7 linked regions of the Homo sapiens genome follow. The protein of the gene in region 1 interacts with the protein of each later gene in a pairwise test. Each region holds a gene or a part of one and is shown on either strand. Other genes may lie near its edges.

Evidence for each region.
Region 2: the proteins of ZHX1 (region 1) and AKR1C3 interact in a two-hybrid assay, tested with the Homo sapiens proteins (one large-scale study listed by BioGRID and IntAct).
Region 3: the proteins of ZHX1 (region 1) and GNG11 interact in a two-hybrid assay, tested with the Homo sapiens proteins (one large-scale study listed by BioGRID and IntAct).
Region 4: the proteins of ZHX1 (region 1) and TAL1 interact in a two-hybrid assay, tested with the Homo sapiens proteins (one large-scale study listed by BioGRID).
Region 5: the proteins of ZHX1 (region 1) and ZBED1 interact in a two-hybrid assay, tested with the Homo sapiens proteins (one large-scale study listed by BioGRID).
Region 6: the proteins of ZHX1 (region 1) and PEX14 interact in a two-hybrid assay, tested with the Homo sapiens proteins (one large-scale study listed by BioGRID and IntAct).
Region 7: the proteins of ZHX1 (region 1) and ZNF33B interact in a two-hybrid assay, tested with the Homo sapiens proteins (one large-scale study listed by BioGRID and IntAct).

The regions. Positions count from the first base shown.
Region 1 is NC_000008.11:123,253,787-123,257,286, reverse strand, and holds part of ZHX1 (zinc fingers and homeoboxes protein 1), read left to right. Parts: intron 1-1,115; 5' UTR 1,116-1,340; coding exon 1,341-3,500. UniProt on the Homo sapiens protein: Acts as a transcriptional repressor. Increases DNMT3B-mediated repressive transcriptional activity when DNMT3B is tethered to DNA. May link molecule between DNMT3B and other co-repressor proteins.
Region 2 is NC_000010.11:5,097,414-5,100,913, forward strand, and holds part of AKR1C3 (aldo-keto reductase family 1 member C3), read left to right. Parts: intron 1-20; coding exon 21-137; coding exon of another isoform or gene 138-185; exon of another isoform or gene 186-763; intron 764-1,388; coding exon 1,389-1,466; intron 1,467-1,913; coding exon 1,914-2,036; intron 2,037-3,500. UniProt on the Homo sapiens protein: Cytosolic aldo-keto reductase that catalyzes the NADH and NADPH-dependent reduction of ketosteroids to hydroxysteroids.
Region 3 is NC_000007.14:93,926,923-93,929,110, forward strand, and holds the end of GNG11 (guanine nucleotide-binding protein G(I)/G(S)/G(O) subunit gamma-11 precursor), read left to right. Parts: 3' UTR 1-1,688; downstream 1,689-2,188. UniProt on the Homo sapiens protein: Guanine nucleotide-binding proteins (G proteins) are involved as a modulator or transducer in various transmembrane signaling systems.
Region 4 is NC_000001.11:47,219,009-47,222,225, reverse strand, and holds part of TAL1 (T-cell acute lymphocytic leukemia protein 1), read left to right. Parts: intron 1-2,051; coding exon 2,052-2,506; 3' UTR 2,507-3,217. UniProt on the Homo sapiens protein: Implicated in the genesis of hemopoietic malignancies. It may play an important role in hemopoietic differentiation. Serves as a positive regulator of erythroid differentiation.
Region 5 is NC_000023.11:2,488,456-2,490,976, reverse strand, and holds part of ZBED1 (E3 SUMO-protein ligase ZBED1), read left to right. Parts: intron 1-204; 5' UTR 205-257; coding exon 258-2,342; 3' UTR 2,343-2,521.
Region 6 is NC_000001.11:10,621,450-10,624,949, reverse strand, and holds part of PEX14 (peroxisomal membrane protein PEX14), read right to left. Parts: intron 1,932-3,500; coding exon 1,829-1,931; intron 611-1,828; coding exon 513-610; intron 1-512. UniProt on the Homo sapiens protein: Component of the PEX13-PEX14 docking complex, a translocon channel that specifically mediates the import of peroxisomal cargo proteins bound to PEX5 receptor.
Region 7 is NC_000010.11:42,635,771-42,639,948, reverse strand, and holds the start of ZNF33B (zinc finger protein 33B), read left to right. Parts: upstream 1-1,378; 5' UTR 1,379-1,445; coding exon of another isoform or gene 1,446-1,475; exon of another isoform or gene 1,476-1,644; intron 1,645-2,976; 5' UTR 2,977-3,020; coding exon 3,021-3,029; intron 3,030-4,178. UniProt on the Homo sapiens protein: May be involved in transcriptional regulation.

The sequences.
Region 1 (3,500 bases):
ATGTGATTAGATCTGCTTTATAACTTTTGGTAGCATTGTGGCAAGTGCTAAGAATAATGTTTCTGGTAGGCCAGGCACGGTGGCTCATGCCTGTAATCCCAGCACTTTTGGAGGCCAAAGCGGACAGATCACCTGAGGTCAGGAGTTCGAGTCCAGCCTGGCCAACGTGGTGAAACCCCATCTCTACTAAAACTACAAAAATTAGCCAGGCGTGGTGGCAAGCGCCTGTAATCCCAGCTACTCAGGAGGCTAAGGTAAGAGAATCATTTGAACCCAGGAGGTAGAGGTCACAGTGAGCCAAGATTGCGCCACTGCACTCCAGCCTGGGTGGCAGAGTGAGACTCTGTCTCAAAAAATAATAATAATAATAATAATGTTTCTGAAACTTTGATCATTCATCCTCCATCTTTGCTATTTTTGCCATACTTGAAGCATGCTTTTGGCTGATGAGATAGACCAGTAGGAAGAAGAGGACATAACTAATGAACTAATGGATTAAATTTCTTGTCTTTTTTTTTTTTTTGAGATGGAGTCTCACTCTGTTGCCCAGGTTGGAATGTAGTGGCATGATCTTGGCTTACAGCAATCTCTGCCTCCTGGGTTCAAGCGATTCTCCTACCTCAGCCTCTGGAGAAGCTGGGACTACAGGCACCTGCCACCACGCCTGGCTAATTTTTGTGTTTTTAGTAGAGACGGAGTTTCACCATGTTGGCCAGGCTGAATTTCTTACACACTTAATGGCCATAATATTTTAGTATCTGTGAATGCTTTTTATAGTGTTAAAGTTCCTCCTTGTTAACATTGCCATTTCACATTAATAATAGTGTGCTTGCCAAAGCAGGCCCTTTCCCCCTTGTCTTCTAATATATAGCTGGCTAAAAAATTTAAATGAATAAGCTTGTGTCTGACCCAAGGTAAAGTACTTAACATTCAATGAGTTGGCCTGGAGAGATTTATTTTGATCTTTAGAGGACATTTTTTTCTGATTCTTATCTTATTCTAGATCTTTGTAACTGAGCTATCCAGCCACTTCATATAAGTGAACTATAACTATAATTTGTTTAAAAGATCATAGTTACTCATTTTAAAACATTTTAAAATTTATTTTAATGTAGGTGATTGGAGTTGTGCTTCAAAAATTTCAGAAATTCAGCAGTATTTTATCTGCCAACAATAAGCTCTTTACTTGATTGCACCATGAGAAAGCTGCTAATGAGACTTGTTGAGCACAAAAATGGACTTGAAGAACCAAAAGCCATTGTTTTCAAATGAAGAACACTGAACAGTTTTAAGCCTCGATGCTTTTTAATCACCACTGAGCTTTTCCTCATAACATCAGAATGGCAAGCAGGCGAAAATCAACAACACCTTGCATGGTCCTTGCCAGTGAACAAGATCCAGACCTTGAGTTGATATCAGATTTGGATGAAGGTCCTCCTGTGCTTACACCTGTAGAAAACACCAGAGCAGAGAGTATCTCAAGTGATGAAGAGGTTCATGAATCTGTGGATTCAGACAATCAGCAAAATAAAAAAGTTGAAGGTGGATATGAATGTAAATATTGTACTTTTCAAACTCCAGATCTAAATATGTTTACTTTTCATGTGGATTCGGAACATCCCAATGTAGTGCTAAATTCATCCTATGTTTGTGTCGAATGCAATTTTCTTACCAAAAGGTATGATGCACTTTCTGAGCATAATCTGAAATATCACCCAGGAGAAGAGAATTTTAAGTTGACTATGGTGAAACGTAATAACCAGACAATCTTTGAACAAACAATAAATGATCTGACTTTTGATGGTAGTTTTGTTAAAGAGGAGAATGCAGAGCAAGCAGAATCTACAGAAGTTTCTTCTTCGGGAATATCTATCAGTAAAACTCCTATCATGAAAATGATGAAAAATAAAGTGGAAAATAAACGGATTGCAGTTCATCATAACTCAGTTGAGGACGTTCCTGAAGAGAAAGAGAATGAAATCAAACCAGACCGTGAAGAAATTGTAGAAAATCCAAGTTCTTCAGCTTCTGAATCTAATACAAGTACTTCCATTGTAAACAGAATACATCCAAGTACTGCCAGCACGGTAGTGACACCAGCAGCAGTTCTTCCTGGATTGGCACAGGTGATAACTGCTGTATCTGCTCAGCAGAATTCTAATTTGATTCCCAAAGTCTTAATCCCTGTTAATAGCATTCCCACCTACAATGCTGCATTGGATAACAATCCCCTTTTACTTAACACCTACAACAAGTTCCCTTACCCAACAATGTCAGAAATTACAGTTCTTTCTGCTCAAGCAAAATATACAGAGGAACAGATCAAGATATGGTTTTCAGCCCAACGTTTAAAACATGGTGTTAGTTGGACTCCCGAGGAAGTAGAGGAGGCAAGAAGGAAACAATTCAATGGAACAGTGCATACTGTACCTCAGACCATAACTGTTATTCCTACACACATTTCCACAGGGAGTAATGGTTTACCATCTATTTTACAGACATGCCAAATAGTTGGTCAGCCTGGTCTGGTCCTTACTCAAGTGGCTGGAACAAACACCTTGCCAGTTACAGCACCTATAGCCTTGACAGTGGCAGGCGTTCCAAGTCAAAATAATATACAGAAAAGTCAGGTACCTGCTGCTCAGCCTACTGCAGAAACAAAGCCAGCAACAGCAGCAGTTCCAACTTCTCAAAGTGTCAAACATGAAACTGCATTGGTAAACCCTGATTCATTTGGCATTCGGGCAAAAAAGACAAAAGAGCAACTGGCAGAATTAAAAGTTAGCTACCTTAAAAATCAGTTTCCCCATGATTCAGAAATTATCAGACTTATGAAAATAACAGGCCTGACGAAAGGAGAGATTAAAAAATGGTTTAGTGACACAAGGTACAACCAGAGAAATTCAAAGAGTAATCAGTGCTTACATCTCAACAATGATTCCTCTACCACCATTATTATAGACTCCAGTGATGAAACCACGGAATCCCCAACTGTTGGTACTGCACAGCCTAAGCAATCCTGGAATCCTTTTCCTGACTTTACTCCCCAAAAGTTTAAAGAGAAAACTGCAGAGCAGCTTCGTGTCCTTCAGGCAAGTTTTCTCAACAGCTCTGTACTTACAGATGAAGAATTAAATAGGTTAAGGGCACAAACCAAACTTACCAGAAGAGAAATCGATGCTTGGTTTACAGAGAAGAAGAAATCAAAAGCTTTAAAGGAAGAGAAAATGGAAATAGATGAAAGTAATGCAGGTAGTTCCAAAGAAGAAGCTGGAGAAACTTCTCCTGCAGATGAATCTGGTGCACCTAAGTCAGGGAGTACAGGCAAGATATGTAAAAAAACACCTGAGCAGCTGCACATGCTTAAGAGTGCATTTGTCCGGACACAGTGGCCATCACCAGAAGAGTATGACAAGTTGGCCAAAGAAAGCGGGCTTGCTAGAACAGACATAGTTAGTTGGTTTGGGGACACCCGTTATGCTTGGAAGAATGGAAACTTG
Region 2 (3,500 bases), on another chromosome or scaffold:
CCATTCTTTAACCTCTGCAGCTTTGGTCCACTTTTCATCGACCAGAGTTGGTCCGACCAGCCTTGGAAAACTCACTGAAGAAAGCTCAATTGGACTATGTTGACCTCTATCTTATTCATTCTCCAATGTCTCTAAAGGTATGCAGTTTGTATGAGCATAAAATTGCGCTTCTGCTGTCATTATAAACATTGTTTATCTGGATAGTTGAACAGAGCTTTTTATTAGGAGGATGTAGGGATTATCACACAGAAGAAGAACCGTAAGTGGAACACCTAATTTCCTTTCTTTCGAGTAAATTTTGAATCCTACTTCTCTAATGCACACCTACAAGAGAAGAGAGTACAGCAACCTCAAAGCCTCTTCCTCAAAAACTTGAAATTACAATAGTCTCTTTCAAGGCACTGTCTTAGTTGTGGCTTTTGAGTCCATCTCTTGGGATGTTCCCAGACACAGAGTTTCATGCAGTTGTGGTGCCCAATAAAACTGCTGCACATGTGATGCACAATGAGTTTCCACCATCTCTCCCCATTTCAAGCTGAAGCAGATTTGGTGGAAGCCACTATGCATGGTTCTTAAATTAGAAACCCTTAATGTGGACTTGCAAAGCTTTATTATTCTGCTGCCTCTTCTTTCACAATAGAGTTTGAAGCTGTATTTAGCCAGGAATTACTGTGTAGTGTATAACTTTTGATTTAAAGTTACAGAAAACTACTCAGGCTAGTTAATGCAAAAGAGTTTACTGAGTTATGTAAAATGGGAAGTCAAAGACATGGCTACATTTAAGGATATGAAATAGTCTACAAAAATGTATCATTTGTCTATTCTTATCTCTAAACTCCAACACTTTTTTTTATTATTGTTGACCCAAACTTTTTCATTGGTGGCGATTATGGCTTTGGAGCAGCTCAAGGCTCATGGTCATCACCATAAGACAACTCCTCTGGGTCTCCCAACTTCTGCTGACCCTATGTGATTCACAGTCCTGCCCAAAGACTATCAACTCTTCAGGTGGTCTGATAATCCTACCGTGTACAAGAGTACAATCCATTATTTTTGGATATCAAGGTATTTCCAAATCAAAGAGAGGTACTTCAATAGAGGAAATTATAAGGGCGGAATAAAGTGACATAAGTCAACTGTGAAACTTGATTAAGACCTAGAAAATGGTCCTTTTCCATGCATATAATATTTGTAAGAGATTAGAGGAAGCCTGTCTCCTGAATACATTCCTTATACCTTCATATGTAAAACACTTAGCACATATCACTTTCTGGAGCATTGTACCACCTGTCTCATGGAGGATTAGTGTCCTTAAAGGTACCTGGGGTTACAGCTATGAGTGGAGAAATTAATTTGTGACATCATTAAAATGACTGCTTCTATTTCAGCCAGGTGAGGAACTTTCACCAACAGATGAAAATGGAAAAGTAATATTTGACATAGTGGATCTCTGTACCACCTGGGAGGTGAGTGCTTGGCGGAGAGGACACAGAGAAGGATGACAAAAAGAGAAAATCTGTTTCCCAGGTTCAATAGGAAAGAATGGAATATGCACCATTAGATCTAGAAATTCAGAAACTTTACAAGAGTAGCTTTGGTGAGATGAAGGGAAAAACACAAAAGGAATGTTTAGAGAGTGGGGCACAAGACTTGGGGGCAAGGAGGACAGGAATCTCTTTCCTTGCTTGTGCATTAATCTATCCAGTTTCCTAAGGAAGAGATAGAAATTCTTACTCTTGCTGCCTCTATCTTCTTCCCCTATTTGCTGTTTGAATTTTTCTTTTTTTGACAATCACTGCTAGCTATTTTCATTGTCATACTTTGAAAGTTGTTGCTCTCACAGTTCTGTCTTGCATTTACCGTGATTTGCAGCCAACTGCACAAATAATTCCTCACAACCCCTTTCTCCACAGGCCATGGAGAAGTGTAAGGATGCAGGATTGGCCAAGTCCATTGGGGTGTCAAACTTCAACCGCAGGCAGCTGGAGATGATCCTCAACAAGCCAGGACTCAAGTACAAGCCTGTCTGCAACCAGGTGAGCTCCCTTGGCCTTCTCTCCTTTCGGTTCTTCATGCCCCCTCTTCCTGTCCTATTGCCAAATATCTGTTTGTTTTGTCCCAGTTATCTTTGTGAAGTAGAAGATTATCTAGAGAGCAAAGCTTCTGTCAAGAAAGGCGTGAAGATTTCTTGTTTGTACCCTGCTTGGAAAAGTATTAGGGAAAAATTGGAATGAGTTTAATGCTGAATCGTGTGTAATATTTAGGGGAGGTCCATTTGATCAGGGAGGCCTGGAATCATCAATTAGAACTCAAGGAAAGGTGGACTTACCTCTAAGCTATGAAAGATGACCAGAAAGTGCATGGGTGAAGGTGATTTGGAGGGAATGGTGTATAGATATGAAGCTAGGAAAAGATGAAATGAGCTGTACGTGAACAGAGAGTTAGAATAAGAGAAGAGAGGTGCTAGGGGTTTACATGGAATTTGGATGTCTGAATGCCTCTTCTTGATGTTTCAACAATTCTTGACCAGGGGCATAGATATACTAAAAATTAGCTGCAGACAATGAAAGTCATCCATGTCAGAAAGAGAAAAATTAGGCCGGGTGCAGTGGCTTACGCCTGTAATCCCAGCACTTTGGGAGGCAAAGGCAGGTGGATCACCTGAGGTTGGGAGTTTGAGACCAGCCTGACCAACATGGAGAAAGCCCATCTCTACTAAAAATACAAAAAATTAGCTGAGTTTGGTGGCACACGCCTGTAATCCCAGCTACTTGGGAGGCTGAGGCAGGAGAATCGCTTGAACCCAGGAGGCAGAGATTGCGGTGAGCCGAGGTCACGCCATTGCACTCCAGCCTGGGCAACAAGAGTGAAACTCCGTCTCAAAAAAAAAGAGAAAAATTACCTGTTTATGGAGGTAACTGTTCACAGTGGATGAAATCAACACTGAGGAACTTTAGCAGAACATAGACCTGACCTATCACTGCCCATGTCTTAGTCTGCTACTTCTCTTTGGGGTCTGTCATCCAATCAGTTGTTTAAACACATCTATTCTATGCATGGTTTTTTCATAGCTTAGGGATAAGTCCTTTTTTCCCCCTGAGTTATTGTTAATGATTCCAGGCCTCCTTGATCAAATTGACTTCCCCCAAATGTCACAAAAAAATTCAAAATTAAAGTCACTCTACCTTTTTGCTAATTTACACTTTTTTATTCTTTTATACAACTTAGAGCCAATGAGTAAAGATCTACCATTGAAATGTGAAGTGTATAAAATTTGTGAATTTGGCCTAATGATACAGTTCCATCATATCCAAATAGAAACATTAAGAAAATGCAGTTTTAATATTAGTCCTTCAATTTTTTATTATGATAATTTTCAAACTTTCAGAAAATTTGATAAAAATAATACACGATTCAACATAACCATTTATATTCAAAATTGTTAACACTTTGCCACATTGCCAAATATTTATGGCAAATGTTTATGTGGGTATATCTGC
Region 3 (2,188 bases), on another chromosome or scaffold:
AGTGGCCAGGCCAGCCCTGGCTTTGAGAGCCAGTACTTATTCCTGCACAGAGCTACATCTCCCATGTGCTCTCCAGGTCTTGGGCATGGCACTACTCCAGTTCTGTGGCATTGGTGCAGACACTTGGACCTCTGCACTCATGCTTGCCAGCATTTTCCAGCAGGCCTGGGCCAAACATGCCTTTTTTTCTTCTCCTCCAAAGGAACCAGTGAATCTTTGCCCACTTTAAAGATTAGTTGGTCTTTTTCTTACTGATTTGTAGGAATTCTTCATATATTCTGGCCATTTATTCGTGTTTGGTGATATGTGTTGCGAATACCTTCTCCCAGTCTGTGGCTTACCTTTTCACAGTGACCTTCCCTTCAGTGGTTTTATCCTGCAGGGCAACACGTCAGAGTATAACTCCTGCTCAAGTTCATAACAAAGGTACCTGAAGCCCAAACCTCACAAAAAGGGACCTTTCTTTCTCACCTTGAGCATTCTCCCGCTTCTTCTCCGTCTTTTGGGTCAAAATTGCTCCAAGTTTGAGCCAAAAGAAAAACGTGGAAAAACCCTTGCTGGTTAGCTCTAGCTCAAATGGACTTAGTCATTAACTTGACCTGCAATTTTCAATGTGGCACCAGAAGCCAATGTTTCTCCTTGACTAGCTCTTTTCTCCCACTTACACATGTAGGTATACCTTACTATCAAGCGAGAGAGGCGCCTGTAACCTGTAGCAGCTTTCTAAAGTATATCAGCATCCTCGTTCTGAAATTCCTTTCCTTTCCCTCTCTGGGAAAGAACAGAATACCCCAGGCTTTTGAAAAATAGTTTACACAGACCAAAAGCAGAAACTATTTCCTTCAGTTTCCTGACACTGTCCAAGTGATGACATCAATTGGCATTACTGAGAGCCCAGGGATAATTTTAGCCCAAAACTACTACTCCTAGGAAGGAGTAGTATGATCTACTACTCTTAGGAAGGATTTAGGAATAGTAAAGGTGTATTTCTTCCAAACAGCATAGAACTATTAGTACTATTAGTCATTTAACATTTAACATGGCATGGGATTTTAGAGCTTTGGTGCCTGTAAAGTTTTACTTCTATTAGCTGTTTCATTTCTTTGCACTTATAAAGTTTTCTTCTGTTGCCTATGAAAGCAAACATTTATTCCGGTTACTGGCAAGGCAGTTTAAATCACCTGCTTCTTTCATGAAAGGCCAAGACAATACATTTATTCCCTAACTTGTTGGGAGTTGCGATTACAAGTCTATATCCTGATTTCTATTAGCACATTCAGCTATCCATTTGTGTACACTCCCAAGTCCTAGCTTTTGCTCTTCATGTCTCTTTCAACCATATGATCAATCAGTTGGACGACTTCTGGTTTTTCCTGAATAAATATCTAATCTTATAGGTGCTTCTATTAAATATAATTCTGTTTCTTTTTCTTACCATTTATCATTATAACCCAGCCAACATGTAGAAGTGCAATAAAAATATTTTAATTTTCAACTGTTCAACTGCTAAAATTATTAGCTTGTAATTAAAAAAGAAAAAATACATCCACTATATATTTAGATATATTGTAAATGTAACCTTTGGTGACTGATAATTTGTTAAGTAGAATTTAAATTATGTATCCAATTTATTCAAAGTGTATAGTTGTGTAATTATTTACTATTTGATTAAAAATAGTTATCATGCATTGTGTAGTGAGACTTAGGTTCTATAAACTCATATAGAATTAGAAAAATCAGGCCGGGCAGGGTGGCTCACGCCTATAATCCCAGCACTTTGGGAAGCTGAGGCAGGCAGATCACGAGGTCAGGAATTTGAGACCACCCTGACCAACATGATGAAACCCCGTCTCTCCTTAAAAATACACAAAAAATTAGCCAGGTGTGGTGGCGCACACATGTAATCCCAGCTACTCAGGAGGCTGAGGCAGGAGAATCACTTGAACCCTGGAGGCGGAGGTTGCAGTTAGCAGAGATCACGCCACTGCACTCCAGCCTGGGTGACAGAGTGAAACTCCATCTCAAAAAAAAAAAAAAAAGAAGAAAGAAAAATTGGGCTTTTCTATTTCTAGGCAGAAGCTACCTTAAAGCTCACCCACACTTGGTATTGTGAGACCAAAATTTTTTGTATGCTAGATGCAAATTAATATCTCACCATTGTCTAAATTTGCATTTCTTTGATTTCCAA
Region 4 (3,217 bases), on another chromosome or scaffold:
CTAGCTCCAGCTGTGACAGCAGTCATAAGTACCCCCTCCCCAACTAGGAGCTCCCTCAAGATCACCAGCATTAGCCATGGTGGAGGGACTGTCCTCCCTATGTCACTGCTGAGGGATGCTCTCTGTCTGGCCTGGAGGCCTGAAAGCAGCAAGTAATTTCCTCAGAGGCCGCCCAGGGTAGAACTGCCCTGCAGTTGTGCTGTGTTTTTCCCAGGCTGGGTCTGGCCTTTGGCAAACAGTCAGCTGGGCTAGGGCCTGCTATGGTTTGGAAAGGCAGCTTCAGAGGTACCATGGGCAGGGGATGGTGATCCTTCCCATTAAAAGTGTGTGTGTGTGAACACCCACACATGCATGTGCATGCCTGTGTGCGTGTAGGAGAGAGAAAGAGATGATCAGGCAGTAAGTGTGGCATGGATGAGCTGATTCACAGACTGACCACTGAGGTGAGGTCTGCTTCCATCCCAGCCTCAGTCTCCTTAGCTATAAAATGGGCAGTGGGACTTAGGTGAGGTCTTAGCTCTTCTCCTCTACCTCGGTTTTCACACTCTGAGGTCTGGTTCCAGGGGTTACTAGAAGAGGGAAAATAAATATCCTAGGACTGGCAGTTCCTTCAGTGCTCAGAGCTTCCTGGACTATGTGACCCTGGCTTGTGCCTCGATGTTAGGGAGAGAAGCAGTCTCCTCAGCCCAGAAGTTCAAGAGCACTAGTAGGACCCTTCACTGTCTTCCCCTGGCTTTACAAATCCCCAGTGAGTCTTGAACACAGCACAGTGCTTTGCACACCATAAGTGCCCTAGACATGTGTGCTGGTATCTGCCACTGCTCCATAAGTCTTTATACATGGAATGTTAGTGACTATTGGGCCAAGCCATAGTCAGTGGATTGTAGACATGAGGAGACTGAGGCAGCCTTCAGAAGCCTGCCTAGAGCTATAGGCCATGGCTGTGCATAGCTGTGTCTTCACTTCTCTCCTGGGTATGAGAGCCCTTCTGCATCGATCTCTGCTCTCCCCTCCATTCCCCACCTGCCACCATGATGGGTCAGTTAGCAGACATTTTCTAAGCCCCTACTCTGTGCTTTCCATCACCCTTAGGATAAAGTCCCCCCGCCTTACTGCAAGGCCCTGTGGAGTCTGGACCCTGCCTACTCTGATCTTGTGCACAGGACTCCAGCCAGCCTGGCTTCAGGCCTTGTCTAGTGCAGGGCCTGTGCATTCCCTTGGCTTGGATACTCTTCTTCCTCTCCCCTTCTTGTGCCTGGCTGTTTCTTCACAGCCTCAGACAAGCCTTCCCAGCCACTGGAGCTAAACATGGAGCTTCTTTTCATTACAATTCAGCCCTGGTTTGTTTGTTTTTTAATATTCGTTTCCCCATTAACATGTAAGCTCCATGAGGGCAGGCACTCAATTTAGTTCACCATTATTCCTCAGTGCCTAGCACAGTGCCTGGTTGTTAGCAAAAAACTGATACATGGATAATAATAGCTAACATTTATTGACTGCTAAGCTGAGGCAGGCATTGTCTTAAGTTCTTTACCTGTGTTAGGTACTAGACCCATGTAACAACTCATGACTTAGTAGTATTACCTCCATTTTGCAGGTGATGAAGCCAAGGCACTTCACAAGTTTTTATGTCACTTGCCCAGAGTCATTCATTTAGGTAGGGGTAGTCAAATAGGAATGGAGTCTGTCTCCTTAGACATAGCTGTAAGGCCTCTTGGCACAAGTGAATGGATGAATGAATAACATACGGTCCCTGTCCTCAAATATATCACAGCCCAGGGAGGGAGACAAGCACAGAAACATAAGTAATGATCAAGAGTGATGGAACTCCAGGGATTGCGGTATCGTGGTGGTTGGTTACATCTGTCTGGAGGGGTTGAGGAAGTTCCCATAGATGAGGAAGCACAGGAACTTGAATTTGAAGGGTGGATGTTTTCTAAGTAAAAGGAAAGTAGGCATTCTAGGCTTCCCAAGTTTCCCAATGTATGGAGATGCCTTTGGGGAAGGAATCTCAAGCCCATTCTCCTAACTCTTGTCCTCCTAATCTCCAGGTCCCCACACCAAAGTTGTGCGGCGTATCTTCACCAACAGCCGGGAGCGATGGCGGCAGCAGAATGTGAACGGGGCCTTTGCCGAGCTCCGCAAGCTGATCCCCACACATCCCCCGGACAAGAAGCTCAGCAAGAATGAGATCCTCCGCCTGGCCATGAAGTATATCAACTTCTTGGCCAAGCTGCTCAATGACCAGGAGGAGGAGGGCACCCAGCGGGCCAAGACTGGCAAGGACCCTGTGGTGGGGGCTGGTGGGGGTGGAGGTGGGGGAGGGGGCGGCGCGCCCCCAGATGACCTCCTGCAAGACGTGCTTTCCCCCAACTCCAGCTGCGGCAGCTCCCTGGATGGGGCAGCCAGCCCGGACAGCTACACGGAGGAGCCCGCGCCCAAGCACACGGCCCGCAGCCTCCATCCTGCCATGCTGCCTGCCGCCGATGGAGCCGGCCCTCGGTGATGGGTCTGGGCCACCAGGATCAGCCAGGAGGGCGTTCTTAGGCTGCTGGGATGGTGGGCTTCAGGGCAGGTGGGGTGAGAATTGGGCGGCTCTGAAGCAAGGCGGTGGACTTGAACTTTCCTGGATGTCTGAACTTTGGGAAGCCTTTACTGACCCTGGGGCTGGCTTTTCTGTTTCCTGTACCAGTAGGAGATCAGAAAAATGGAGCAAAGTGGTAGGTACTTTTTGTGAAGACGGCACGGTCTTCCCTCTTCCCTCAGTCCCAAATCCTTCCCAAGTAAGAGGCTGGAGTTGTCACTGCTTTTGGCCTGGAGTTTGGGATCCCTGTCTTTCCTAAGACCTGGGGTTGTCAGCTCTCATCTGAGGCATCCAGCAGTCTCTGCCTTGCCTTTAGCCCCTCCCAAGCTGGCTGGGGTGGCCTGTGTGGCCACTTCTGTCCATATTTATAGGTACCCAATAGCTGCCCATTTCGTGAGCCCCATCTTCACCCAGGCCTATGTTGATCCATCCAGCTTGCCAGATGCTGCAGAGTCACAAGCCTCGAGGTGCCTTCTTCAGGGCCTGGTTGAAGAAGATGATCAGTGGACAGTCTGCTCTAGATGAGCTGGGCCGGAGGGTCAGGAAACCCAGTCGCCCTTACTTCTTGCCCTGGGGATCAAAGTTCTGCTTTCTCCCCAATGAGACTTGCCTTCCTAAGCCTGTGGCTGTGGA
Region 5 (2,521 bases), on another chromosome or scaffold:
TTAACGTGGAAGAAAGAGCGTATTCCTGCGCTAGGTTCCCTCCTCCACTCTGCAAAAGTGACCCGCAAGGAAGGTCCAGCCGTCCGGCCCCAGTGCCCTTTGGTTGAAAGCGGAGCTGCCCCGGCACCCTGTCTGTCTCCCCGGCAGGGCTCCCGTGCGTGCCTGGGTCCCTTCTCATGCTGTGTTTGTCTTGGCCCTTCTCAGCAGGTCCCCACGCATGAGCAGCCGTCCAGCAGGCAGGCTCCGGTGGAGAAGCAATGGAGAATAAAAGCCTGGAGAGCTCCCAGACAGACCTGAAGCTGGTGGCCCACCCCCGCGCCAAGAGCAAGGTGTGGAAGTATTTCGGCTTCGACACCAACGCCGAGGGATGCATCCTGCAGTGGAAGAAAATCTACTGCCGCATCTGCATGGCCCAGATCGCCTACTCCGGAAACACCTCCAACCTGTCCTACCACCTGGAGAAGAACCACCCCGAGGAATTCTGCGAGTTCGTCAAGAGCAACACGGAGCAGATGCGTGAAGCCTTCGCCACCGCCTTCTCCAAGCTGAAGCCCGAGTCGTCCCAGCAGCCCGGGCAGGACGCGCTGGCCGTCAAGGCCGGCCACGGCTACGACAGCAAGAAGCAGCAGGAGCTGACGGCCGCCGTGCTGGGCCTCATCTGCGAGGGGCTGTACCCAGCCTCCATCGTGGACGAGCCCACCTTCAAGGTGCTGCTGAAGACGGCCGACCCCCGGTATGAGCTGCCCAGCCGGAAGTACATCTCTACCAAGGCCATCCCTGAGAAGTACGGGGCCGTCCGGGAGGTGATCCTGAAGGAGCTGGCCGAGGCCACCTGGTGTGGCATCTCCACCGACATGTGGAGGAGTGAGAATCAGAACCGCGCCTACGTCACGCTGGCCGCCCACTTCCTGGGCCTGGGCGCCCCCAACTGCCTGTCCATGGGCTCCCGCTGCCTGAAGACCTTCGAGGTGCCCGAAGAGAACACGGCGGAGACCATCACGCGAGTGCTCTATGAGGTCTTCATCGAGTGGGGCATCAGCGCCAAGGTCTTCGGGGCCACCACCAACTATGGCAAGGACATCGTGAAGGCGTGCTCCCTGCTGGACGTCGCAGTGCACATGCCCTGCCTGGGCCACACCTTCAATGCCGGCATCCAGCAGGCCTTCCAGCTCCCGAAGCTGGGGGCGCTGCTGTCGCGCTGCCGCAAACTGGTGGAGTACTTCCAGCAGTCTGCCGTGGCCATGTACATGCTCTATGAGAAGCAGAAGCAGCAGAACGTGGCCCACTGCATGCTGGTGAGCAACCGCGTCTCCTGGTGGGGGAGCACGCTGGCCATGCTGCAGCGCCTCAAGGAGCAGCAGTTCGTCATCGCCGGGGTCTTGGTGGAGGACAGCAACAACCACCACCTCATGCTGGAGGCCAGCGAGTGGGCCACCATCGAGGGGCTGGTGGAGCTCCTGCAGCCCTTCAAGCAGGTGGCCGAGATGCTGTCGGCCTCCAGGTACCCCACCATCAGCATGGTGAAGCCGCTGCTGCACATGCTCCTGAACACCACGCTCAACATCAAGGAGACCGACTCCAAGGAGCTCAGCATGGCCAAGGAGGTCATCGCCAAGGAGCTTTCCAAGACCTACCAGGAGACGCCCGAGATCGACATGTTTCTCAACGTGGCCACCTTCCTGGACCCCCGCTACAAGAGGCTGCCCTTCCTCTCCGCCTTCGAGCGGCAGCAGGTGGAGAATCGCGTGGTGGAAGAGGCCAAGGGCCTGCTGGACAAGGTCAAAGACGGCGGCTACCGGCCGGCTGAGGACAAGATCTTCCCGGTGCCCGAGGAGCCTCCCGTCAAGAAGCTCATGCGGACATCCACGCCGCCGCCCGCCAGCGTCATCAACAACATGCTGGCCGAGATCTTCTGCCAGACAGGCGGCGTGGAGGACCAGGAAGAGTGGCATGCCCAGGTGGTGGAGGAGCTGAGCAACTTCAAGTCCCAGAAGGTGCTTGGCCTCAACGAAGACCCCCTCAAGTGGTGGTCAGACCGCCTGGCCCTCTTCCCCCTGCTGCCCAAGGTGCTGCAGAAGTACTGGTGCGTGACGGCCACGCGCGTCGCCCCTGAGCGTCTCTTCGGATCCGCCGCCAACGTGGTCAGCGCCAAGAGGAACCGGCTGGCTCCCGCGCACGTGGACGAGCAGGTGTTTCTGTATGAGAACGCCCGGAGTGGGGCAGAGGCGGAACCCGAGGACCAGGACGAGGGGGAGTGGGGCCTGGACCAGGAGCAGGTGTTCTCCTTGGGGGATGGCGTCAGCGGCGGTTTCTTTGGCATTAGGGACAGCAGCTTCCTGTAGCGAGGAAGCGTGTTGTCTTACAAGTCATCCCCGCAGCAGCCCATTGGATGCTTTGCTGTAAATACTTACCCGGTCAGCTTGGTTTTGAACCTCAGAGACCATCCACTGTCTTTGACACCTAGAAGGTGGAAAAAGGAAAGAGATTTGAGAAGTGAGAGAGGGTCGGGGGCGGTGGCTCC
Region 6 (3,500 bases), on another chromosome or scaffold:
TCTGGCTCCCTAGGATTGCCAGAACCCATGGAACCTGAGTCTAGAGAACCTGCCCGCTGCACTGCGGTGTGGATGGGGCTGGTGCTGGTGAACTGACTGCGACTCGCTTCTCCCCTGTCTGTTCCAGAACCCCTCCTGGCCATGCTGTGACCTGCAACCTAACTTATAGGTAGAGACCGTCCCATGTCTACACAGAAAGCCTCCAGAGCTGCGGGGATGTGGCTGCCATGAGATCTCCACAGGCAGAGGGTAGCTTTTCCTTCCTCCTGTTGGGAGGTGACATAGAGAGAGAAAGGATGGCCTCGACAGTTAAACGTCACACTGACTGCCCAGCAACAGCCTCCTGTCTCTACAAGGAGAGAAAGGGCAGCATCGGCCACGGCTGTGTAACCACTGTGAGACTGGGGCAAAGTCCAGCTCCCGAAGGTGGCAAGCCCGGCCCAAGGGACAAGAGTGAAGGGCACATGGGACAGACCTGGGCCTGGAGGGCCCTGTGCAGCAGAGACAGGTACCTTGGCAGCGGCCAGCTCGTGGGCAAGCTCCTGGATCTTCTGCTGCTGCTGAATCAGCAGCTCCTGGACGGAGGCGAGGGTCGTCTGTAACTGAGTCACTGCGAGGAGAAAGCAGTCACGGCGCTGGCAAATTCACAGGCACAGACGTTCCCCTCGCTCGGTCCGCACACCTCGGAGCTGCCCGTGTTCCCGCTCCATCTAATTTATCTGCAGACACCCCCAGCCCCCGCAATCCATCTAATTTATCTGCACTCTGGGTGATCTGCCTGCACTGTATCTAACCTCTAGTATTTCTACTTTATCTTTCCATTGTGTAGTTGTCCATGGTCAACAGTATATCCGTCCAGAACCTCTCCCCTCTAATTAGAGCTGGCTATGATTTGCTGAGCTCTCCCGGCTTCTCTGGCGCCTGCGTCCTTCATCTCCTGGGCCTCAGTGTCCTTGTGAAACTCCTGGGGTCTCCAATGCTGGGAGAGATGCATCTCAGGTCCCCGCCACATTCACATCCAGGAGTGGCTCAAGCCGCACGTCCTGTTTCCCACTGCTCCTTCCCACCCTCCCCACCTGACCCAAGCTGCCTGCTCAACTCCCTGGTGTCCCGTGACCCCTCAGGACCTTGTTGCCACCAATGTCAGCCTCGCAGGAGCAAACGGCAGCAGGATGGACGTGTCAGAGGGTTTCTGTGAGCTTCACAAACGTGCTCCAGAGGGACACAGACTCCTGCCTGGGACAGGTGGCTCTCTCATTGGCCTTGCTCTGGTTTTTAGATTCAGAGCTGCCGTCTAGTAAACAAGTTTATAAAGAAGAGAAGCCACCTCTGGCGCGACAGGTCCCAGCTAATCTGGGCCATCGCTGGGGCACTGGGTAATGAACGCGAGCCCTGTTGAGTCGATAACAGGGGAGGTGGCTGGGGTCCCGGGAGCCACAGTAATTACAGACTCTCTTGACCCCACAGTCGAGTCTTAGAGGGAAGGGGGAAAATCACTGAAAACCCCCCTGAAAACCTCATAGAAGCAGAAATTAAAAATGAACTTTACAGCCCTTAGAAAGGCTGTCATTTTATTCCCCTTATTAATATTCTGAGGTTGGGAGCCTTTCCGTAAAAACATAATTAATTGAGGCCGCGCCGACAGTAAACAAGCAATTTCAAATTAAACCGAAATGACGGCGGCTTCATTTGCAAATGTGAACAGATTCTCAGAGCAGATAAATGAAGTCACCACATAGAGTGGAGACAGAGGGAGAGGGGAGGGGCAGAGAAGGGGCTGCTTGGAGAAGGCTGTGAGGGGTGACTTGATGGAGTCATTAATCTTTACCTGTCTGGGCCACGCTGCCACTCAGCTCAGAGAGACCGGCCTCCATCCTCTCCAGCTGCTTTCTGTCCTCTCGGCCGCCCAGGATGAGGGGGAGCAGGTATTTCTGCAAGAAGCGGGACAGGGTGAGGAATGCATACGGACCCGGGGTTATCCTCCAACAATCTCTCAAATTCTGCCGCCCAACTTTCTCCCTGTCATCCCTGGGTTTTGGAAACCCTAAGCAAACACCATAAATGAACAAGATATTTGAAAAAGTTATGAGACTGCGATTACAACCACGTAAAAATTCTGCCTGAATAAGGACAAGGACCAGGAGGGAACGTGGACAGGGAGAGTCAGCTGGATCTGCTGTGATGGGAACTTTTTGGTTCCTTTATTTACTTTTCTTAGTGATGCTACACTATTTCTGTAACACAAAGTTATAAACTCTACTGTCAAAGTTGTAAGATATAAATGTGGATGGACACACAAGCAACAGATAATGCTGGAGCCTCCAGGAGGCGAGGGAGGCGGGGCAGCTCTTCCCGGCATGTTCTCCTGAATTGTGAACATTTTGAACCTGTGAGTGAATCACCTATTCAGAAACAAACGAGTAAATTAATAAACAAAACATCGCTGGAGAAACTAAAGGAAAATCAACAACACATTTCTGGGACCCTTGGTTCTCTCGCCAGGGGATAACATGTGCGCTCTGAGGCTGCTGGAAGAGGTCACCTCAGTCTTTTTCTAAATGAAGCCTGAATCCTCAGAACAAACTTCCTTCACGTAAGAGTCAAAAGAAGTCGAGTTCCCCAGAAGGAAACACAAGGCAGAAGGGAGAGGAAGGCGCAGGACCAGAAGAAACTGGCTCTGGGGAAAAAGAAAGTGAATGCGGCAGGGCCACCCCTCACAGGGGCCTAGAACCAGGGATGCCCGAAGGAGCCGTTCAGGAAGGGGGCAGGCAGGGCAGGGCTGGCAACTGGTGCTCTTGGTTGCCTTGGAGGTGAGGGTGTGGAGGGGTGGAGGTGGGTGGTGGGGCCTGCAGGGACAGCTGCGTGTAGGAACATGTGCACTGACGTCCAGCCACTCGGGACATGGAGACAAAGCCCCCCAGGTGAGGAGTGAGACCCGCTGCCCCCTTCAGTGGGCACTGCCAGAGGCAGTGCAGTGCAAGCCTGGCAGGAGCTGCCCGGGGATAACTTTGGTTCTTAATCTATCTGGGCCCAGATAGGAAAGAGGACGGAAACTTCTCCATTACGGTTTCTGTACCAGGGAAGGAAAAGAAGCTCTCTCACAAGGGGTTTGTGGGAACTCATTTCCAGAGTGACTCCTAAGTGAAGATCATTCTTCAGCAGCACATGTATAGACGCATTTTCTATTTTGCAAAGTGCTTTTCAACCACAGTGTGAGCTATTACCCACAACTGAGCCAAAACTCATCAAAGGTAGCCTTACACTTCAGGATGAAATGTCCTCAGCAAGAAAGGTAAAGAATTCTTGGCCGGGCGCGGTGGCTCACGCTTGTAATCCCAGCACTTTGGGAGGCTGAGGTGGGCAGATCATGAGGTCAGGCGTTCGAGACCAGCCTGGCCAACACAGTGAAACTCCGTCTCTACTAAAAATATAAAGATTAGCTGAGTGTGGTGGCGCATGCCTGTAATCCCAGCTCCTCGGGAGGCTGTGGCTGGAGAATC
Region 7 (4,178 bases), on another chromosome or scaffold:
TAAAATGTAACTGATATTAAATTTATAGTTTCTGTCTTTGGTATCACATCCCTTTTTGGTTTTTTTTGAGACAAAGTCTCACTTTGTCACCCAGGCTGGAGTGCAGTGGTGCCATGATGGCTTACTGCAACCTGGGGCTCAAGTGATCGTCCAACCTCAGCCTCCTGAGTAGCTGGGATCACAGGCGCCTGCCTACATGCCCAGCTAATTGTTATTTTTAATTTTTTGTAGAGACAGGGGTCCCACTATAACGCCCAGGCTGGTCTTGGACTCTAAGGATCAAGTGGTCCTCCTGCCTCCACCTCCCAAACTGCTGGGATTACAGGTGTGGGCCACTGTGCCTGGCCCACATGTCAATTTTCAAAAATTTATACTCGTTTAAATGTTTCAATACTGTATACATGTGAATTTTATCACGTGTGATCTATATATATCTCTATATTCCAAATTGTTAGGAATGACATGCTCTTTGGAATACTCCATTCTTTCCCTCACTGTTTTGAAATGCTGTATTTACTACACATTAAAGAATACTCTCAATCATGGTGTCTTATTTCCATGGAGCAGGTGCCAAACTACTTTGAATAGAGCAATATTATATATATAGATAGATATAGATATTTCTCAGGCATTTTTTCAAGCTTTTTAAAACGTATAATGGCTGTTCATTTAGTTTTTTACTTACTCTGGATAAAGTTGACAATGCTTTTGTAAAGTACACAATACACTAAAGATCAAAGAGAAAAAATACATAAAAAAATTTGTTGATATTCTTTTAGGAATTTTGTCTTCCTAAGAAAGGTACAGATAGACTAAATGTATTTCCATTTAGTCAAGCAATTTTAATGTCACAGGGGAAATCATGTGACATTTATTTTCTTCTTTCGGATTATGTCTATTTTCTGACTTTTCAATTTCCGTTTATTGCGTTAACGATTTTGATGAAGTAGCTTTCCTGTGGCACCTCCCCCATCCCCCCCATCCCTGCTCTCAAAGAATCGCTGATAGTGTCAAAGTCTTTTAAACTGTATCAATAAGATCTACTTCCTAACATTTAAAGTGAAACTGACACACAGCTGTCCTTTCCTTGAGGCGTCTGTGTCTAACCTGCACACTTGCTGCACACAGACCTCCCCTGCAGTGCATCCCTTTGGGTCGCCCCGGGAGAGCCAGGGCTGCGGGCAGTTCCCACACCAACTCAGACCGCATCTGTCCACTGCCTAGCGGGGCACCTCTCTGCCAATCCCGAAGGGCTGCTCTCGCGTCCTCACGGGAAAGGTAGTTTCCAGGTTGGGCGCCAACAGCGCCAGGCTTTGAGCGTGGGCTCTGCGCATGCCTCATCCACTGGCTACCTCTGCGTTTCTGCGTTTCCGCCTTTCCTTTTGTTTGTCTCACGTTTTGCGTGGGAGGCGGTCCCGGGATTTCAGGGGTCTACCGGCTCTCTTATGGCGAATGCAACCCGAAGAGAGAGTGAGGTAAGCCTCCGCGGGTTGGGCAGGGACGGAGAGGGGGCCCCGCGCGACTCCAGGAGCAGGCAGCCGGGGGCCAGTGCCAGGTGGTGGCGAGGAGTCCCGGGGACCTCACGGAGAAGCCGGGGACGGCGGGGCTGCAGCATGTCTACCAGGACGCTACGCCAGTTCCTCTAAGGCGCAGCCTCTGTAGGGAGCGGGCTACGCCCTGTGCGTTGCCCTGTTTGTAGGGGCCGCGGAGGAGGGCATGTGCGCTTGCGCGGTCCGAGCGCTGAGCCTTGCGGGAGGGGCAGTTCTCTGGTTGAGCGTGTTTACGCCCATGTGCTAGGGCGCGGCCCTACCTGGGTAGGAAAGGGCGGGTGCAGTCGCCCGCCCGACATACGGACTCTGTTGCCCGTTCTGCGTTCATCCTCTTTAGGTTTCGAACTGCCCTCCAGTCATGTCCATCACCCCATCTTGTTATTTGCTGTTCCTCTGTCCTAACTTGATCTTGCACTCAGGAAGGATCTTCAAGAATTACATAATTTTGGCCTAGCGCGGTGGCTCTCTCCTGTAATCCTGCACTTTGGGAGGCCGAGGAGGGTGGATCACCTGAGGTCAGGAATTCGAGACCAGCCTGACCAACATGGCAAATCCCCGTCTCTACTAAAAATACTAAAAGTAGCCATGCGTGGTGGCCTATGACTGTAATCCCAGCTACTGAGGCAGAGAAATGCTTGAACCCGGGAGGCGGAGGTTGCAGGTAGCTGAGATTGCACCATTGCACTCCAGACTGGGCAACAAGAACGAAACTCCGTCTCAAAAACAAACAAACAAACAAAAAACCAGAATTACCTAATTTTGCCTCATTTGTTAGAAGAAAAAATAATTTTTTTGTTTTTTGTTTGTCAAGGTTACTGACTTGTTCAGGATCAAAGTTTGTTAGTAGGGAGAACTAAAAGTCACTTCTCCTGACCCCTAAGCCAGTACTACTTTTCTACACACATCAAAGCAAGTTTAAAACATCCTTTTGAGAAATAGCAACAAAGTTAGATGAAGAAATTAAAACGGATTTTTTCTTTGAAGCACTGACGCTTATGGTTTTCTGTGGACTAACTCATCAGAGGTTAAGTAACATTACTGGGAAAATCGATAGCCTAGTCCTATTCTTTACAATGGTTTTAGTGTTAATGTTTTTTCATTAAATGTATTGTTAACTTGTTTGGCCAATATTGTCATTATACATTTTTTGTGAAGACTGAGGGAGATTGAAATCCTTAGGAAGCAAATATTTACTTTCACCTGATGAAAAATCTTGTGCCCAAGAGCTACATGGTTATGTTGGAGTTGTATTAGGGTGTTCTTTCACCATTTCTACCCCCTATTCCGAAGTGTCAGAGGACATTGATATTCTCCCAGACGGAGCATTTTACCTAGTGGGTGTGTATGGCTTCTTAGGGCAGAAGAATCCGGGAGTTGCCAGGCAGGCCAAATCTTTCATGACCCCATTCCTCTTTTTCCAACTCAGCTGTATCTTCAGAGTTGTCTCCGTCTTTCCAAGAACAGAACAAAATGAACAAGGTAAGTTGTTTATTAATTCCCTACTTTATTTTGCGGTGGACTTTGTGAGATTTGTAAGAGTCAGTATGGTTTTTTTGTTTTGTTTTGTTTGTGACATGGAGTCTCGCTCTGTCGCCCAGGCTGGAGCGCAGTGTCTCCATCTCTGTTCACTGCAACCTTGCAACCTCTGCCTCCTGGGTTCAAGCAATTCACCTGCCTCAGCCTCCCGATTGGCTGGGACTACAGGCGCAGGCCGCCACGCCTGGCTAATTTTTTGCATTTTAATAGAGATGTGTTCACCGTGTTGCCCTGGCTGGTCGCAAACTCCTGAGCTCAGGCAATCCGCCCGCCTCGGCCTCCCAAAGTGTTGGGATTACAAGTGTGAGCCACCGTGCCTGGCCAAGAGTCAATATGTTAAGATGAGAAATTAGTAATAGATAAAAATTGAACTTCCCAGAAAATATAAAGTAACAGATCAATAGCAGGGCCAAGTTAGAGTCAATAAGTTGAGCTTCATGTGTTTCTTATGTTTCCAACAACCATGGCAGAAAGGAAGACACTGGATATGGATACAGACAAACTGACTCCTCTGAAGACACAAAGACTTCCTGGCAGATACCTTTTTTGGTTATAACATAGGGACCCATAGTGAATAACCTTCCAGTGTTAGCCCTGAAATGAGTGCAGCCTATTGAGTCAAACTGCTTTTTTAATTTTTATTTTATACAGGTTCCAATTTTCTTTTGGATGTACTGTTTGATCAGTAAGTTAAAATGTATTTTAATTTTAAATTTTTTATTTTTTTATTTTTTTGAGACAGAGTCTCGCTCTGTTGCCTGGCTGGAGTACAGTGGCACGATCTTGGCTCACTGAAACTTCTGCCTCCTGGGTTCAAGCAATTCTCTTGCCTCAGCCTCCCGAGTAGCTGGGACTACAGGCGTGCACCACCATACCTGGCTAATTTTTGTAGATTTAGTAGAGACGGGGTTTCACCATGTTGGCCAGGATGATCTCGATATCTTGACGTCGTGATCTGCCCTCCTCGGCCTCCCAAAGTGCTGGGATTACAGGCGTGAGCCACTGTGCCCGGCCAATAAATTAAAGTGTATTTTAATTTTTTTTTTTTTTTTTGGATACAGAGTCTTGCTCTGTCGCCAGGCTGTAGCACAG